Linked DNA regions of Homo sapiens: region 2 is linked to region 1. Evidence: fine-mapped expression QTL. A gene starts in region 1. The other region holds a variant in brackets. All regions are shown on one strand. Distances are from middle to middle. Region 1 holds the start of TMEM33 (transmembrane protein 33). Region 2 overlaps LOC105374426 (a long non-coding RNA gene).

Region 1 (9,777 bases):
GCTAGAGTGCAGTGGCACAATCTCAGTTCACTGCAACCTCCACTCCAGGGTTCAAACGATTCTCCTGCCTCAGCCTCCCGAGCAGCTGGGACTACAGGCACATGCCACCATGCCCAGCTAATTTTTTGTATTTTTAGTAGAGATGGGGTTTCGCCATATTAGCCAGGATGGTCTCAATCTCCTGACCTCATGATCCGCCCACCTCAGCCTCCCAAAGTGCCACCGCACGTGAGCCACCGCGCCTGGCCTAAATTCAAGTTCTTATACTGGCAAAATAGGTGCTCAGGAAATTTCGGTTTCCTCCTATTTCTTTTCCTTAAGACTTATAAAAATCTATTTAAAAATTTGATACTTCATGAGCATAGGTATCTAAATAGGTAATATTCAGTCTCAGAGGAATATTTTATTGTGCTTTACATAACATACAGATGTATCATAAATATTCAAAAGCTCTTAGACCAGCACTTCTCAATGCACAAAATGATTTGCAGAGATAATCTACAGGAAAAAAAACAACCACAAATTTAAGTTTAAAAAACCCTACTAACTCTCTTAGTTTCACAACACACGTTAGAATACCAAAGCCACTATAGTAAAGAACCCTATTTAAAAATGTTTGACCTGGCTGGGCGTGATGGCTCACGCCTATAATCCCAGCACTTTGGGAGGCAGAGGCAGGTGGCCTGGGCAACAGAGCAAGACTCTGTCTCAAAAAAAAAAAAAAAAAAAAAAAAGAAAGTTTAACCTAGTGTTCACTATAGAACCTCTTCCCCATTTTTCCCCTCCTTTATGGACTACCCAGTATCATCCCACAACACACCTTTGAAATGTGAAAACATACAAATTCCAAATGAATTATTTCTCATTAGCTTCACGGATTATCCATGTGTGTCCTTATTTTCTACTCTATACACAGCAAATATTAATTTCTTTGTATTGATTATCTCATTACCTGCTTAAATAAGTTGTTTCTTGGTTAAATTCCATTTGTATCTAGTTCACTGGGGTTAAGATGGAAAGAGCTGAGGACCTCTCTTTTTTAAAGCAAGACATCTGGACACTTTGCCAAAAACGTGAATTAAATGAAAAAAATGTAAATATTAAAGTAAGTTCTGCGTAAGGTTGTGCTTCGAAGGGGAATTTGAAAATATCCATTCTAATAGGGAAGCTTACAAGAGGCAAGAACAAAGATAGTTTAAAATTCCTAAATCAGCTCTTCAAAGTTTAGATTTCACATTTTAAAGTCAGAAATTCTTACACTAAACATATCTTCATTCAAATGAAGTGCCGAGAACAAACCCAGGCTTCATGGAATGCCTTCATTGCTGAAATAATCAGAAGAGATCTCCTATATGCTTAGTTGGCAATTTCATTGTTAACAAGGTAGAAAAGGATACTTGTAACTGGATAGGAATTTACAAAGATGAGTGAATACAACAGGTAGTGGCAGCTGTCCTCTAACAAAGCCTGGGCCAGGAATGCTCTGCTTAACTGGAAGTGTGGTAATCTTTGATGCAGCCTCAGAGCACTGGTAAGAGCATTTGCCAGCAAAGCACGTTGGTAAAAGCTTGCTGCTTCATGCAACCTGCAAATTACCAGAGGAGAGGTTATCATGAGACATAAACAACTGCAGTGTCTCTTCCTCCTTTGTGAATTGCATCATAATTGCACAACACCTAAATCACTTGTCAATAGAAAAAAATTACATGAACTTATTCTACCGTTTTAATAGCTTCACTTCATATATATGCCCAACTGAATTTCTTATAATCAATTTATAAAATTGAATTTTATAAAGCAGGACCTTCCTGTCAAGTAATAAGTAAAAATGAAAAAAACATGAACTTATCTCATTCCCACACATCAATTTTTCCTTGGATTTTCAATGTGTTAGTTTCACAAAGCACAAGATATAAAATATTCCTCTGATAATGTTATTAGGTTGTTAGTACCTGAAGGCTGGAACTTGTATTTTATTTGTCCCTAAACCCTTTACAGGTTAATAAGTCTTACACCTAAAAGGCACTCCATATAAACTGACTCAACAATTGAATATCAAAGGCAGCAATATGTATAATACATACCCAAGAAGAGGCAGAACAAACAGAGCAGAGCAGTAAACTGTGAACAAGCGAGAAAGCCACATTGCCGTGTCCAGTTTATTGGTCATCATGAATTGCTAAATTTAAAAAGAAAAATACTGTAAGCTATGCCTGCAAATCATGTTTTTAAGCATCAAGACTGTGTGGTTTTTATGTCTACTCAAAATATTTTAATCTTCCTCCATTTGTTTTTTTAGATCATTAGGTGAAAACTCTAAGGCAATTACATGTTTCATGTATATGCTTAATGAGAAGTCCAAACACCTTATAGTTTTCATGTGGAAAGCACAAGAAGTACTTAAACAGAAATAAATAGAAAAATATCAGCTGACATTTTAAAAAAATGCAAAGACTAATTAATTAGAAAAAATAATCTTAACAGAAATTCAACTACAATTGTCTGTGTTCCTTTAACACTTGCAATATTGGCTTCATCTATTTTAAAAGAACATTAAACAAAAACTAATTGCTCTCAAGAGATCCATATGCCTATTCTTAGCAAAAAATCTCAAATCCGAATAGGTAGGTCTCAGAGCTGAGTAAAACATCACATAAAGCCAGTTGGGATTAAAGAAACCTTTTGAAGAAGAAATATAAAACCATGATAGTAGTAACAACTAAACTCATTCGCCTTGTAATCTGCCTACATGCACAAGGGCCTGGCATACTCTAGGTGCTCAAAATGTGGCTGACAGGTATTAAATGGCCACCTGCCTCTCTGATTACACCACTCTCTTTATCACCTCCATGTTCCCCCACAAGTCTTACCCTAGTTTCGGTGGTCCTAGATTAAACTTTCCTATACCATTTTCTTCCCCCATTTTTTTCCCATTCTATCTTTCCTTTGCTGCTTTCCCCCCAATACTTATGTCTATTACCACTAAAGCAGAATCTTAAAATGTGTTTTCTCATTAAAATGTATCTTATATTCAAAAGTGGCTTTTACATTTTTTGTCTAGGATCTTCGTAATTTTAACATTGAGATCCATATACATGGATATATAAACAAAAGTTTCACAAATATTTACCCTACTGTATATAATGGATTTTGACATTTTCTATTTAATTTTTTAAAAATAGCTGGTGTTTACACTAAACTGACTTCTCAACTCACTAATGGGTCTACCTGAAGTCTAAAAACACTGCTCTATGTAATTTAATTTCATTATCTTTTGAAAAAAAAATATAAAAAATTTGAGGGAAAAATCCAAGTACATTGTAAAATTCCAGGCTGTTTTATTTTATGTCTTTTTAACCCACATGTAGGTAATTTCAGAAATATGAAATACAACTTTGATTTATCATTAAATCCAGACTTACCGTACTGTGACTCCAATAAACTGAAATGATTAGCAGTAATCAAGTGAAGGATGAATCCAGCTTACTGTGCTCAGTTTCTCAACAAATATTATGACTGGGCACCACAGCTTGAAAGTTAGTTTTAGAACATTCTCCTTAAAATCTATTTGTTCAGGTTGTTTATTCTGCAATAAATCATTGAGCTATGCGTTTCATTTTGTACACACTTATGTATATTATACAATTTTAAAAGTTTAAGAAAGTCTATTGGTATACATTTTTTAAGAGTAAACTGTCCAACCATCAGGCAAAAAAAAAAAAAAATCACTAGATCTTTGGGTGAAAAATTGTTGAGGAGCAATATTCACACAGTGTCACAGTATCATGCCAAAGAACACTTTTTAATTAGAAAGGAAAAAAGGTATCTTTACAATGGAGAAACTGGTGGACACCACCTTAATCAAATAATCAAACAAATTCTGCAATGATGGGATAAATCAATGTAAAATGCTTCCTGATATATAATATAGATATACATATTAGATGTACCTATATATGCTGCAAAACATGTCTGGACTCTTGAAAACTATCAGTATCTTAAAAGACAAAAAAGGGGAGGAGAGGGCAGAACTGTTCTAGATTAAAAGGCAGTAAACAAGATATGGCCAGTAAATTGAATGCATGCTTTCTGAGATAGGGTCTCGCTCTGTCACCCCAGGCTGGAGCGCAAAAGCACAACCCACCTCAGCCTCCTGAGTAGCTGGGACTATGCTGGGACTATAGGAGCGCACCTCCACGACCGGCTAATTTATGTTTGTTTGTTTGTTTGTTTGTTTTGAGAGAAGGTTTTGCTCTATCACCCAGGCTGGAGTGCAGTGGCGCGATCTTGGCTCACGGCAGCTTCAACTTCTCGGGCGCAAGCGATCCACCCGCCTTGGCCTCCCAAAGTGCTGAGATTACAGGCGTGAGCCACCACGCCCCGCCTAATTTCTTTGATTTCTAGTAGAGATGAGGTCTCGCTATGTTTCCAAGGCTGGTCTCTAACTCCTGAACTCAAGCGATCCTCCCGCCTTGGACTCCCAAAGTTCTGGGCTTACAGGAGTGAGCCACTGCGCCAGCCCATCGATGCATGCTTTTTGACAGAATCCCAGATGAAGAGAAAGCAGCTTTAAAGGACAATTATGGAAATTTGCACATGGATTTTATATTAGGTAATATTTCCCAAATGTGGTAACTGCATTGTGGTCACACAGAATAATACTTAACTACTTATGGATTAAAAAGTAGAGGACAGCAATGCTCCGGGCACAAATAACTTGTTAGCTCCAGATCAGCATCTTAAAAAAATTACAAAAGCATAATGATATTTCTCTTCATAAAGAACAAAGTGAAGAAGAAAAAGACCACCGCTCTCCTCCCTTTGCATAATTTCTATATACGATTGTATAAACTAGGCAGAAACGTTCTTTGCCGGCACTCGTGTGCTCCACGTGGTGTGTGTCATGGATCATGTGTGTCATGGCACAATCTCATGCGGCATCTTTAACCTTGGGGCCTACGGTAAACAAAAGACCGAGGTGGGAGAAGAGGAAAGAAGGCCCAATTTCCATGGCATACAGGTGGGGGCCACCAGCTCCAGGTCAGCCTATTGTCGCTTCAGAAACAAACTTGTAGTTCCCTCCATATCTTCGCTCAGGACCTCCCCTCTCCCCGCTCCAACTTCCCCACCCCAACTCATTAATCCCATTCCTGAATGCACTGAGCTTCTGGAACGCCTCGGGACTCGCAACGCTTCCTGCTTCTTCCTAACTCTTGCAAATCAAGCCAGACTACCCTGCCCTCGCACTTACCACAGCGCCCGCCCCTTGGGGGCCGTTCGGGGTCGTATCTGCCATGGGGGCTCACACTAGCGTCTGCGACGCCGCAACCGCGAAGAGAGAAGAAAGGGGAGAGAAAACGTCAGCGCTGGGGCCAGGACCCGGGTACCGGCTTCCCTGCCTCGCGCCACACACAGGCCGGATGCACCCTGCCGGAACTCTGAGCCTCCACCAGGGAAGGGTCTCGCTCGCCTGGTGCAGCCGACTGGATCCAGGGCACCCGCAGCAGCCGGGAGGTACCTGTCCCGCACCGCCGAGATCAAAGCGGTGTTTCCAGAAAGACGGGAGCGAAGGTGGAGCTTCGGGGTGAAGCCCTAAAGAGCCAACCTACGCCGCCGGCTCCAGGTTATTGCCGAACCCGGAAGTGCTCCTTTCATTTCCGTGGGGAAGAGGCGGTGACAAAGAGGGGGAAACGGGAGCGGTGCCCAGAGGCATGACGGGAAGTGTGGTTTTTTTCTCCTAATTTGAGCCCCACCTGTCCTTCCGCCGATTGGCCCAGTGAGCTAAGAAATCAGGATGGGGGAGCAACTTTTGCATTAAATACAGCTCACAAATGATCTTTCCTGCCCATTCTCAAACCATGAAATTTCCGCACTTCCTGATATAGAGGCCTCAGAAACATCTTTGATTCCTTTCTCCAGGGGCTTACTAAGCCCGTTGGTTCTACGTCTATTATTAATTCTTTCAATAAGTATTTATGAGGCCTGCTATGTGACAGGCTCCATACTTGGCACGGCGGATAAAAAGAGGAATATGACACAGATTGCAAAAGAGAAACAAGTAAACGGAAATCAGAGCATAGTGATTGTGTAATATGTGTAGAGGCTGATTTAATCACAGGGAGCACAGAGGACGGTACCTAAATCAGAAGGGATCTGGGGAGGTTTCCTGGAAAAGGTAAGTCCGGGCCTTGATCTTGAACGACAAAAAGTTGGCTGAAAGTGTTACTGGTGTAGGGTGTCCAAGTTCTTGGCGTTTTGAACATAGAATTGGACAAAACGCACAAAGCAAGGAAAGAATAAAGCAACAAAAGCAGAGATTTGTTGAAAATGAAAGTACACTCCAGAGTGTGGGAGAGTGAGACAGCAGCTCAAGGGCCCTGGATACAGAGTCTTCTCGGGTCCAAATACCCCCTAGAGGTTTCCCATTGGCCACTTGGAGTTCACTTCATGTAAATGAAGTGGTGGCCCGCAATCAGTCTGAATGGTTGCGCAAAGCAACCAATCAGAGGCTGAAGAAGTTACAAAGTTACACTTCTATGCAAACGTCTGATTGGTTACAAAAAGCAACCAATCAGAGGTACTTTCAATTTCCCAAATCTGCGCAGAACAGGTTGGGGCTTGCAAAGGGAGTAGTATCTGGCCCTTTATTCACTTAAGCGTGGACAGTAAGGATTTTCCTTCAATTTAGTTCTAGGAAGTCAGCGAGAAAGGGCATTAGGTTCCCTACCGCCATACCATATTCTTCTGCCTTAAAACGGGAAGGGAACTCCATACAGAGTAACAGAAAGTGCAAGAAGTAACAGGACAGCGAGAGGACTAGTTGAGTGTGACCAGAATGATGGTACCAGTCAGGGGATTGTGAAAGATTTGCGCTAGAGAGGCAGGCAGGGGTGTACTGAGGAAAGGATCTGAACTTGACCCTGAAATCCAGAGAACCATGGAACAATTTTAATCAGAAGTGTGACATCCTGAGATTTAGAAAGTTCTCTCTGGCAACAGGGTGGAGGATGAACAGAGGGGCAAATTAAAAGTCAGGAAATTCGTTGTGAAGCCATTTATATATATATAAACTAAAAATAAAATCCTAAGTAAGGGGTCTGTCGACTGACTGGATAGATCCCTTTCTTGGCCAAGGGGACCCCAGCCATGATGGGACAGGAGATCAGACATGCCTCATTATACCCCCTCCCTTTTGTAGTTTAGACACAACTGACTAGCAACTACTTAGGCGTGGAAAGTTAGGGTTTTCCTTTCAAATTAGTTCTAGGAAGTCAGCCTATGTTTAACATGTTAATGTTACAATAAAGATCATAACATTGACAGAACAAACTCTTTGTGGGAATAGGATACCAAATTATAAACAGGACCTAAGGCCATGCCAGGCAAGGGTTAAGTCATGCACCCCCTACACTTAAAAAATAAACTATGTTCTACCACAAGAGGTTTTTTTTTTCCCTCTGGCAGCTAAACAACCACTGGCCTAGAGAGAAGCAATATTAAAACAATTACAACTAATCCAGCTCACAGACACTAACTGAACCCCTGCTATACCAACCATAGCTACAGCTTTGATTGCACAAGAGACTGATTTCAGTAACGTTCTCCAGATAAGACCACTGACCATAGGCTGGTTCTGGCCACTTTACAGAGGCCATGCACTTGTGTGCCTTCGTCTCTGCTTCACCTTTTGAGGTACAGAGCCTAACTGTAATACATTAAATATTAAGTCTCCACCCCAAGGTGAACACAGGTTGTATGTAACATGCATGTTGTTCCATACGCATGTATCAGGACTACTTTTATGAATATTCATAGCTCTTCCTGTAACCTGTTGAATATGTATGTTTAGCCAACCTATTCAGCATAAAGCTCCTACCCCAGCTCCTCTTCCTTTAAAGTGCCTGTCTCTGGTCCTTGCTGGAGGCTGTGCTTCCCAGCCCATGAGAGGGCCACCTTGCAGGCTGTATCTCCTTATAAGAAATAAAGTCTCCTTTTCTGAACATATAGATCTTGTGAGTTTTAAGTTAACACATACGTGTAGGAAAGAAGTGATGAGATTCTGGATTGAGGCAGTGTTGTTGGGGAAAAGAAGAGGAAAGATGACTTGGAGGTGGCTTCTAAGATGTGGTGACTAACTAGGTATGGGTGTGTAGGAAGGGGAATGCCATCTGCTGAGACCTGAAGAAGTGTAGAAAAAAATGCATGAGAAGAGCAGTAGATTGAGAATCAAATATGAAGGGGCTAGGGAGAGGGAGTGGACTGGGGACCCACGGGAAAGCTGGCACCCTGTCGGAAAACCATGAGACTGTAATGCTCTTCCTCTGTCAGATGTGTGGTTATCCTCTAGTATCCATGGGCAGACCAGGTGCTAGTCAGATGCAGCCGAGAAATCAAATGGGGTTCTCTTGAAACAGTACAAACCTCTTTTTCTAAGGCCACTGCCCAAGTTCAGGTCCTTCAGATCTCTAGCCTGGATTACTCATCCTCCTAGCTGAGCTAAAATGCCACCTCCTCTGCACTCTTCCCATATCATTTACTCCATATTTTTATAGCAGTTACATTTTTTAACATTTCTTAGAATTATATGTCTCCTTGCCAGTGTGTGTGTTTGTGTGTGTCTATGGCAGTCAACTCAGGCTGTCATAACGAAATACCATAAAGTGGGTAGCATAAGCAACACAAATTTGTTTTCTCACAGTTCTGGAGACTGAGAGGTTTAAGATTAAGGTGCCAACAAGGTAAGTTTCATTTTAGCCGCTGGCAGCTGCCATTTTCTGTGTGCTCAATTTAGGAGGAGGTAAATGATCTCTGTCTTCCTCTCTTCCCCTTCTTATAAGGTCGCCAGTTCTATCGGATTAGGACCCCATCCTTATAACTTAAGTTAGCCTTAATTACTTCCTAAAGATCCTGTTTCCAAATATATACAGTCACATGAGGGTTAGGGTCTTGACATATGAATTTTGAGGGACACAATTCAGTCCATAGCTATATATATTTTATATATATGTATGTAAGTACATATTTTTTTACTGATTTAAAGGATCATCTTATTACAAAAATATTAAAATACAAAATGTTCTCTATTGTAAATTCCATATAGCTAATTAATCTCACAGATACTTCTTTTGATTTTGCTGAACTCTTATATCCATAGCAATATACAGTTGCCATTGATGAATGAGTGTAATTTCATGAATGTTTCTTGATATTTTTGTTAAAGAGTAAAATGAAAGTGAAACAACTAAGACACATATCTTCAACTTTGCATATTAAAATAATTGCAAGTTTACTCTCCTAAGTAGTTGTATTTAGTGTATGAGAATAGCCCTAATCCCTGCCAAAATTTGCTATTTTTAGTTCTTACCAAGATTAGGTATATAAAATGGTATGTCATTTTTTCAATTTGCATTTTCGTGAGTAGTAGTGAGGCTTAGCATCTTTTCACAACTTTATTGGCCATTCAGATTTTCTCTCCTGTTGGCTTTTTTTTTTGAGACACAGTCTTGAGCTGTCGCCCAGGCAGGAGTGCAATGGCGCAGTCTCGACTTGCTGCAGCCTCCACCTCCCAGGTTCAAATGATTATCCTGCCTCAGCCTCCTAAGTAGCTGGGATTACAGGTGCCTGCTACCACGCTGGGCTAATTTTTTGTATTTTTAGTAGAGATGGGGTTTCAGTATGTTGGCCAGGCTGGTCTCAAACTCCAGACCTCGTGATCTACCCGCCTCAGCCTCCCAAAGTGCTGGGATTATAGGCGTGAGCCGCTGTGCCTGGCCTCTG
Region 2 (9,777 bases), 27 kb after region 1:
TCCAAAATAATATCATTTTATTATGTAATCCATATAACAAAATATTGAGGTATTCTACATTCTCTTTTTCATTTAAGTCTTCAAAATCCACTGTGTATTTTACACTTAAAACATATCTTAGTTTAGACTAGCCAAATTTCAAGTTCTCAATAGCCACCTGGACTTAGCAACTACCTTATGAGACAGTGAAAGTTTAGACAATCTAACCTTGTAGAAATAGACTGGTTCATTGCATGTGTGGGTTCACCTTGCCCGCTGCCTAGACAGAGTGGATTTATCAAGGTGGGGGAATTGCAATAGAGAAAGAGTTATTCATGCAGAGCCAGCTGTGGAGGAGACCAGAGTTTTATCATCACTCAAATCAGTCCCCCTGAGCATTTGGAGATCAGAGTTTTTAAGGATAATTTGGTGGGTGGGGAAAAGCCAGTGAGTTGAGAGCACTGATTGGTTGAGTTGGAGATGAAATCATGGGAAGTTGAAGATGTCCTCTTGTGCTGAGTCAGTTCCTGGGTGGGGACCACAAGATCAGATGAGCCAGTTTATTGATCTGGGTGTGCCAGCTGATTCATCAAGTGCAGGGTCTGCAAAATATCTGAAGCACTGATGTTAGGAGCAGTTTAGGGAGGGCCAGAATCTTGTAGCCTCCAGCTGCATTACTCTTAAACCATAATTTCTAATCTTGTGCCTAATTTGTTAGTCCTACAAAGGCATTCTTGTCCCCAGGCAAGAAGGTTTGTTTTGGGAGAGGAGTGTTATCATTTTTGTTTTAAACTATAAACTAAGTTCCTCCCAAAGTTAGTTCAGCAGATGCCCAGGAAGGAACAAGTACAGCTTAAAGTTTAGAAAAAAGATGGAGTCAGTTAGGTTAGATGTCTTTCGCTGTCTCAGTCATAACTTTGCAAAGGCCGTTTCAGATAGACCCTCAAAACTAGAAGTCAAAATCCTTTCTTGTAAAATGCAGCTTTAATACATTTCAGGAAAAGCAAGGTGATTTCAGATATAATTATTCTGCTATTGAATATTTAGCTATATCTTCTTTTATCTCATGAAGAAATATATCCAGGCAAATTAAAACTTTTTTCCAACTTTTATTCAGATTTTGATTTGGTGAGCAGGAGCCAGCTAGGCCAAGAGCATATGAACTTGACATGGATTTCTGATGAATAATGTTTCTGCCAAATCTATCTCCTAATTACCCATCTACAGAACTAGGGTGGGCAGAATGGCCTCTTGACAGACCACATTATTTTATTTGTGTTTATGAATGTCGTATGTTAGCACCAGTATTAGGCCGTTCTTGCATTGCTAGAAAGAAATACCTGAGACTGGGTAACTTATAAGAAAAGAGGTTTAATTGGCTCACAGTTCTGCAGGCTGTACAGGAAACAGTGCTGGCATCTGCTTCTGGGGAGGCCTCAGGAAGCTCTTACTCATGGCAGAAGGTGAAGTCGGAGCCGGCACTTCACATGGTGAGAGCAGGAACAAGATGGGGGTGGTGCCACACACATAAACAATCAGATCTCGTGAGAACTCACTCACTATCAGGAGGATAGCACCATGAGGGATTGACCCTCCTGACCCACCAGGCCCTACCTCCAACCAGGCCCAACTTCCAGCACTGGGGATTACAATTCAACTTGGGACTTGGTGGGGACATATATTCAAACCATATCTGCACCAATTCCTTTAATGTATATGTTTATAGTTTGGTTTTCACTTTTGGATGAAAGGAAAGAAATATCTATGTTTTCTCTTAACATTCTAAATAGAAGTGTCCTTCCTTGTAGATAATGACAAAATTGTTCTATTGTCATGAATCAGACAAAGCATTACACGACAAAGTTTCCAATGTCAGCAAGGTGAGGAAATTTTCATTAACTGTGGAAAAAAAAAAAAAGAAAATAATCTGAGGCACTGGTTTTCTAATTTTTAAGTGTTCAATGTTAAGCGAACCTACGCAGTAGGTCAATTTGTTTACATAACCCAGAGGAGTGCTTTGTGGTTAATTCATGTGGTAGGTCCCTAATTATATTGAAGATTATATCCCTAACACCCACCGCAGAGCTGGGCAGGTCATATGCATCCATGAATATTTGCTGAATTGAATTAAAGATGGCCATGTAGAAGCCTGTAGTGTATGGGGCTGTGTCAGAGGGAGAGTAGATGCTGGAGAAGATAGGGGAGTAAAAATTGGGCAAGGAGTGCTCAGCTCAGAATGGCAAGAGTCCTGGAGACATCCGCGCAAAATGCTGAGATGAGTTTAAAGGTCTCTCAGCAATTCTATACTTCAAAATACATACTATGAGCCAGGCGCAGTGGCTCACACCTGTAATCCCAGCACTTTGGGAGGCCGAGGCAGGTGGGTCACTTGAGGTCAGAAGTTCGAGACCAGCCTGTTCAACATGGTGAAACCCCATTTCTACCAAAAAATACAAAAATTAGTCAGGCATGGTGGCACACGCCTGTAATCCCAGCTACTTGGGAGGCTGGGGCAGGAGAATCGCTTGAACCTGGGAGGCAGAGGTTGCAGTGAGCTGCGATCACACCACGTACAACAGCCTGGGTGAAAGGATGAGAATTCGTCTCAAAAAAAAAAAAAAAGAAAGAAAATAAAATATACTATGTAGTAATAAGAAAGCCATTCCTAGTCAATAGAGTGGGCTTAAAAATCTTTAGTATTAAAACATTGTGTGTTTTATTTTGCAGATACAAAGGAAGTTTTTCTCGGCCTGGTCTTGACTTAACAGTGACTTTAGTACTATCCTGTTCAGACACCTCAAGTCTTCAGAAGAAAGCAGATGATGTGAAAGTATATCTAGGTCCCCAAGAGAGATGCAAATTACCAGCTGTATTCCCTCATGTCAGGAAAAAGAGGGTCCCATATATTTCTTGTCTAATACAAAATCGCAGAAGGCTGAAACACATTAACTAGAAAAGAGAATGCAATTTGGATTCAACTACCTGCTGTCATGAAAGGTAACAGTAGTTAATAATGTTTGCAATTCATGGGATGTTAGAGATAAAAGAGTCCTCAAATATCCTCCAGCAAAATCTCTCTCCTTTTACAAATGGACAAACTAAGGACAAGAGAAGAAAGATGAGTCAAGCCTTCAGTCTTATGCTGTGATCTGATGGTGAGCTATAAAATCACTGTCAAGAGAGCCCTTCCAACCACCTGTGCTCCTGGAATTCATGAGGGAAACACATTCCTAAAACAAAACTAGCAACATCAAGATATTACCAAATGCTAGGCCGGGCGCTGTGGCTCATGCCTGTAATCCCAGCAGTTTGGGAGGCCGAGGCGTGTGGATCATGAGGTCAGGAGATCGAGACCATGGCGAAACCCCGTCTCTACTGAAAATACAAAAATTAGCTGGGTGTGGTGGCGGGTGCCCATAGTCCCAGCTACTCGGGAGGCTGAGGCAGGAGAATGCCGTGAACCCGGGAGGCGGAGCTTGCAGTGAGCCGAGATCGCACCACTGCACTCCAGCCTGGGTGACAGAGCAAGACTCTGTCTCAAAAAAAAAAAAAAAAAAAAAAGAAATTACCAAATGCTCTTTTTCCACTCTTATTCTTCAATCTCCAGTAATTTAGCACTCTGTTAACTATATTATAATCTAAAAAGTTCAGGAATAAGCTGGGCACTGTGGTTCAAGCCTGTAGTCCCAGCACTTTGCAGATCACTTGAGCCAAGGAGTTCAAGACCAGCCTGGGCAACCTGATGAAAGCACGTCTCTACCAAAAAAAAAAAAAAAAAATTAGCCTGGTATGGTGGTGTGAGCCTGTAGTCGTAGCTACTCGGGAGGCTGAGGTGGGAGGATCACTTGAGCCCAGGAGCTGGAGGCTTCAGTGAGCCATGATTGCTCTACTGCACTGCAGCCTGGGCAAAAGAATGAGAGCCTGTCTCAAAAAAAAATCTACTGTAGGGGTGGCTGGCAAGATAGCCAAATAGGAAGAGCTTTGGCCTACACCTCCCAGCAGAAGGTAAGTGATTTCTGCATTTCCTTTTTTTTTTTTTTTTTTTTGAGATGGTGTTTCACTCTCGTTGCCCAGGCTGGAGTGCAGTGGTGTGATCTCGGCTCACTGCAACCTCTGCCTCCTAGGTTCAGGCAATTACCCTGCCTCAGCCTACCGAGTAGCTGGGATTACAGGCATGTGCCATCACGCCTGGCTAATTTTGTATTTTTAGGAGAGACGGGGTTTCACCATGTTGGCCGGCTAGTCTAGAACTCCTGACGTCAGGCCATCCACCCACATCATCCTCTCAAAATGTTGGGATTACAGGCATGAACCACCACACCTGGCCTGCATTTCCAGCTGAGGTACACAGCCCACCTCACTGGGACTGGTTACACAGTGGGTGCAGCCCACGGAGGGCAAGCTGAAGCAGGGTGGGGTGTCACCTCACCTGGGAAGTGCAAGGGGTC[A/G]GGGAACTCCTTCCCCTAGCCAAGGGAAGCCACGAGGGACTGTGCTGTGAGGAATGGTGCATTCCAGCCCAGATACTACACTTTTCCCATGGTCTTGGCAACCTGCAGACCAGGAGATTCCCTTGGGTGCCTATGCCACCAGGGCCCTGGGTTTCAAGCACAAAACTTGGAGACCATTTGGGCAGACACCGAGCTAGCTGCAGGAGTTTTTTTTTTTTTTTCGTACCTCAGTGGCACCTGGAATGCCAGCCAGACACAACCTTCACTCCCCAGGAAAGGGGGCTGAAGCCAGGGAGCCAAGTGGTCTAGCTCAGCAAATCTCACCACCATGGAGCCCAGAAAGCTGAGATCCACTGGCTTGAAATTCTCACTGCCAGCACAGGAGTCTGAAGTTGACCTGGGATGCTTGACCTTGGTTGGGGGAGGGGCATCCACCATTACTGAGGCATGAGTAGGTGGTTTTCCCCTCATAGTGTAAACAAAGCTGCTGGGAAGTTTGAACTGGGTGGAGCCCACTGCAGCTCGACAAAGCCTCTGTAGCTAGATTGCCTCTCCAGATTCCTCCTCTCTGGGCAGGGCATCTCTGAAAGAAAGGCAGCAGCCCCAGTCAGGGGCTTCTAGATAAAACTACCATCTCCCTGGGACAGAGCACCTGGGGGAAGGGGCTACTGCGGGCACAGCTTCAGCAGACTTAAATGTTCCTGCTTGCCAGCTCTGAAGAGAGCAGTGGATCTACCAAGCACAGTGCTCGAGCTCTGATAAGGGACAGACTGCCTCCTCAAGTGGGTCCCTGACCCCCGTGTCTCCTTATGGGGAGACACCTCCCAGCAGGGGTCAACAGACACCTCATACAGGAGAGCTCTGGCTGGCATCTGGCGGGTGACCCTCTGGGATGAAGTTTCCAGACAAGGAACAGGCAGCAATCTTTGCTGTTCTGCAGCATCCACTGTTGATACCCAGGCAAACAGGGTCTGGAGTGGACCTCCAGCAAACTCCAGCAGACCTGCAGCAGAGAGGCCTGACTGTTAGAAAGAAAACTAAAAAACAGAAAGGAATAGCATCAACATCAACAAAAAGGATGTCCACATAAAAACCCCATCCACAGGTCACTAACATCAAAGACCAAAGGTAGATAAATCCACGAAGATGAGGAAAAACCAGTGCAAAAAGGCTGAAAATTCCAAAAACCAGAACACCTCTTCCCTCCAAAGGATCACAACTTCTTGCCAGCAAGGGAACAAAACTGGACAGAGAATGAGTTTGACGAATTGACAGAAGAAAGTTTCAGCAGATGGGTAAAAAAAACTCCTGCAAGCTAAAGGAGCATGTTCTTTTTTTTTATTTTTTTATTTTTTATTTTATTTTATTATTATTATACTTTAAGTTTTAGGGTACATGTTCACAATGTGCCGGTTAGTTACATATGTATACATGTGCCATGCTGGTGTGCTGCACCCATTAACTCGTCATTTAGCATTAGGTATATCTCCTAATGCTATCCCTCCCCCCTCCCCCCACCCCAAAACAGTCCCCAGAGTGTGATGTTCCCCTTCCTGTGTCCATGTGTTCTCATTGTTCAATTCCCACCTGTGAGTGAGAACATGTGGTGTTTGGGTTTTTTGTCCTTGTGCTAGTTTACTGAGAATGATGATTTCCAATTTCATCCATGTCCCTACAAAGGACATGAACTCATCATTTTTCATGGCTGCATAGTATTCCATGGTGTATATGTGCCACATTTTCTTAATCCAGTCTATCATTGTTGGACATTTGGGTTGGTTCCAAGTCTTTGCTATTGTGAATAATGCTGCAATAAACATATGTGTGCATGTGTCTTTATAGCAGCATGATTTATAGTCCTTTGGGTATATACCCAGTAATGGGACGGCTGGGTCAAATGGTATTTCTAGTTCTAGATCCCTGAGGAATCGCCACACTGACTTCCACAATGGTTGAACTAGTTTACAGTCCCACCAACAGTGTAAAAGTGTTCCTATTTCTCCACATCCTCTCTAGCACCTGTTGTTTCCTGACTTTTTAATGATTACCATTCTAACTGGTGTGAGATGGTATCTCATTGCGGTTTTGATTTGCATTTCTCTGATGGCCAGTGACGGTGAGCATTTTTTCATGTGTTTTTTGGCTGCATAAATGTCTTCTTTTGAGAAGTGTCTGTTCATGTCCTTCGCCCACTTTTTGATGGGGTTGTTTGTTTTTTTCTTGTAAATTTGTTTGTGTTAATTGTAGATTCTGGATATTAGCCCTTTGTCAGATGAGTAGGTTGCAAAAATTTTCTCCCATGTTGTAGGTTGCCTGTTCACTCTGATGGTAGTTTCTTTTGCTGTGCAGAAGCTCTTCAGTTTAATTAGATCCCATTTGTCGATTTTGGCTTTTGTTGCCATTGCTTTTGGTGTTTTAGACATGAAGTCCTTGCCCATGCCTATGTCCTGAATGGTAATGCCTAGTTTTTCTTCTAGGGTTTTTATGGTTTTAGGTCTAACGTTTAAGTCTTTAATCCATCTTGAATTGATTTTTGTATAAGGTGTAAGGAAGGGATCCAGTTTCAGCTTTCTACATATGGCTAGCCAGTTTTCCCAGCACCATTTATTAAATAGGGAATCCTTTCCCCATTGCTTGTTTTTGTCAGGTTTGTCAAAGATCAGATAGTTGTAGATATGCGGCGTTATTTCTGAGGGCTCTGTTCTGTTCCATTGATCTATATCTCTGTTTTGGTACCAGTACCATGCTATTTTGGTTACTGTAGCCTTGTAGTATAGTTTGAAGTCAGGTAGCCTGATGCCTCCAGTTTTGTTCTTTTGGCTTAGGATTGACTTGGTGATGCGGGCTCTTTTTTGGTTCCATATGAAATTTAAAGTAGTTTTTTCCAATTCTGTGAAGAAAGTCATTGGTAGCTTGATGGGGATGGCATTGAATCTATAAATTACCTTGGGCAGTATGGCCATTTTCACGATATTGATTCTTCCTACCCATGAGCATGGAATGTTCTTCCATTTGTTTGTATCCTCTTTTATTTCATTGAGCAGTGGTTTATAGTTCTCCTTGAAGAGGTCCTTCACGTCCCTTGTAAGTTGGATTCCTAGGTATTGTATTCTCTTTGAAGCAATTGTGAATGGGAATTCACTCATGATTTGGCTCTCTGTTTGTCTGTTATTGGTGTATAGGAATGCTTGTGATTTTTGTACATTGATTTTGTATCCTGAGACTTTGCTGAAGTTGCTTATCAGCTTAAGGAGATTTTGGGCTGATACAATGGGGTTTTCTAGATATACAATCATGTCATCTGCAAACAGGGACAATTTGACTTCCTCTTTTCCTAATTGAATACCCTTTATTTCCTTCTCCTGCCTAATTGCCCTGGCCAGAACTTCCAACACTATGTTGAATAGGAGTGGTGAGAGAGGGCATCCCTGTCTTGTGCCAGTTTTCAAAGGGAATGCTTCCAGTTTTTTCCCATTCAGTATGATATTGGCTGTGGGCTTGTCATAGATAGCTCTTATTATTTTGAGATACGTCCCATCAATACCTAATTTACTGAGAGTTTTTAGCATGAAGCGTTGTTGAATTTTGTCAAAGGCCTTTTCTGCATCTATTGAGATAATCATGTGGTTTTTGTCTTTGGTTCTGTTTATATACTGGATTACATTTATTGATTTGCATATATTGAACCAGCCTTGCATCCCAGGGATGAAGCCCACTTGATCATGGTGGATAAGCTTTTTGATGTGCTGCTGGATTCGTTTTGCCAGTATTATATTGAGGATTTTTGCATCAATGTTCATCAAGGATATTGGTCTAAAATTCTCTTTTTTGGTTGTGTCTCTGCCAGGCTTTGGTATCAGGATGATGCTGGCCTCATAAAATGAGTTAGGGAGGATTCCCTCTTTTTCTATTGATTGGAATAGTTTCAGAAGGAATGGTACCAGTTCCTCCATGTACCTCTGGTAGAATTCGGCTGTGAATCCATCTGGTCCTGGACTCTTTTTGGTTGGTAAGCTATTGATTATTGCCTCAATTTCAGAGCCTGTTATTGGAGTATTCAGAGATTCAACTTCTTCCTGGTTTAGTCTTGGGAGGGTGTATGTGTCGAGGAATTTATCCATTTCTTCTAGATTTTCTAGTTTATTTGCGTAGAGGTGTTTGTAGTATTCTCTGATGGTAGTTTGTATTTCTGTGGGATCGGTGGTGATATCCCTAAAGGAGCATGTTCTAACCCAATGCAAGGAAGCTAAGAACCTTGAAAAAAGGTTAGAGAAATTGCTAACTAGAATAACCAGTTTAGAGAAGAACATAAATGACCTGATGGAGCCAAAAAACACAGCACAAGAACTTTCTGAAGCATACACAAGTATCAATAGCCAAATCAATCAAGTGGAAGAAAGGATATTAGAGATTGAAGATCAACTTAATGAGATAAAGCGTGAAGACAAGATTAAAGGAAGAAGAATGAAAAAGAATGAACAAAGTTTCCAAGAAATATGAGACTACGTGAAAAGACCAAACCTACGTTTGATTTCCCTGAAAATGATGGGGAGAATGGAACCTAGTTGTAAAACACTCTTCAGGAGATTATCCAGGAGAACTTCCCCAACCTAGCAACACAGGCCAATATTCAAATTCAGGAAATACAGAGAACACCACAAGGATACTCCAGGAGAAGAGCAACCTCAAGACACATAATCATCAGATTCACCAAGGTTGAAGTGAAGGAAAAAATGTTAAGGGCATCCAGAGAGACAGGTCGGGTTATCCACAAAGGGAAGCCCATCAGACTAACAGTGGATCTCTCTGAAGAAACCTACAAGCCAGAAGAGAGTGGGGGCCAATATTCAACATTCTTAAAGAAAAGAATTTTTAACCCAGAATTTCATATCCAGCCAAACTAAGCTTCATAAGTGAAGGAGAAATAAAATCCTTTACAGATAAGCAAATGCTGAGAGATTTTGTCACCACCAGTCCTGCCTTACAAGAGCTCCTGAAGGAAGCACTAAATATAGAAAGGACAATCAGTACCAGCCACTGCAAAAACATACCAAATTGTAAAGACCATTAACACTATGAAGAAACTGCATCAACTAATGGGCAAAATAACCAGCTAGCATCATAACGACAGGATCAAACTAACACATAACAATGTTAACCTTAAATGCAAATGGGCTAAATGCCCCAATTAAAAGACACAGACTGGCAGATTGGATAAAGAGTCAAGACCTATTGGTGTGCTGTATTCAGGAGACCCATCTCATGTGCAAAGACACATGTAAGCTCAAAATAAAAGAATGGAGGAATATTTACCAAGCAAATGGAAAGCAAAAGCAAACAAACAAAATAA

The links.
Region 2: its variant is fine-mapped to the expression of TMEM33 in blood mononuclear cells (TOPMed, PIP above 0.99).

Annotation. Positions count from the first base shown.
Region 1 is chr4:41,931,004-41,940,780 of GRCh38, reverse strand. It overlaps TMEM33 (transmembrane protein 33), which reads right to left and starts at 5,352. Exons shown (of 7, transcript NM_018126.3): 1 at 5,252-5,352; 2 at 2,085-2,179; 3 at 1,398-1,585. The coding sequence starts at 5,296. It overlaps LOC105374426 (a long non-coding RNA gene), which reads left to right and starts at 6,106. Exons shown (of 3, transcript NR_188374.1): 1 at 6,106-6,175. RefSeq lists enhancers at 4,963-5,032, 5,043-5,092, 5,333-5,512.
Region 2 is chr4:41,904,428-41,914,204 of GRCh38, reverse strand. LOC105374426 (a long non-coding RNA gene) reads left to right here. Exons shown (of 3, transcript NR_188374.1): 3 at 2,707-3,758. Among named protein-coding and RNA genes, the nearest start is that of TMEM33, 26 kb to the left of the region's middle. RefSeq lists enhancers at 121-1,320, 4,762-5,653. The variant A/G (reference allele first, on the strand shown) is at 4,428.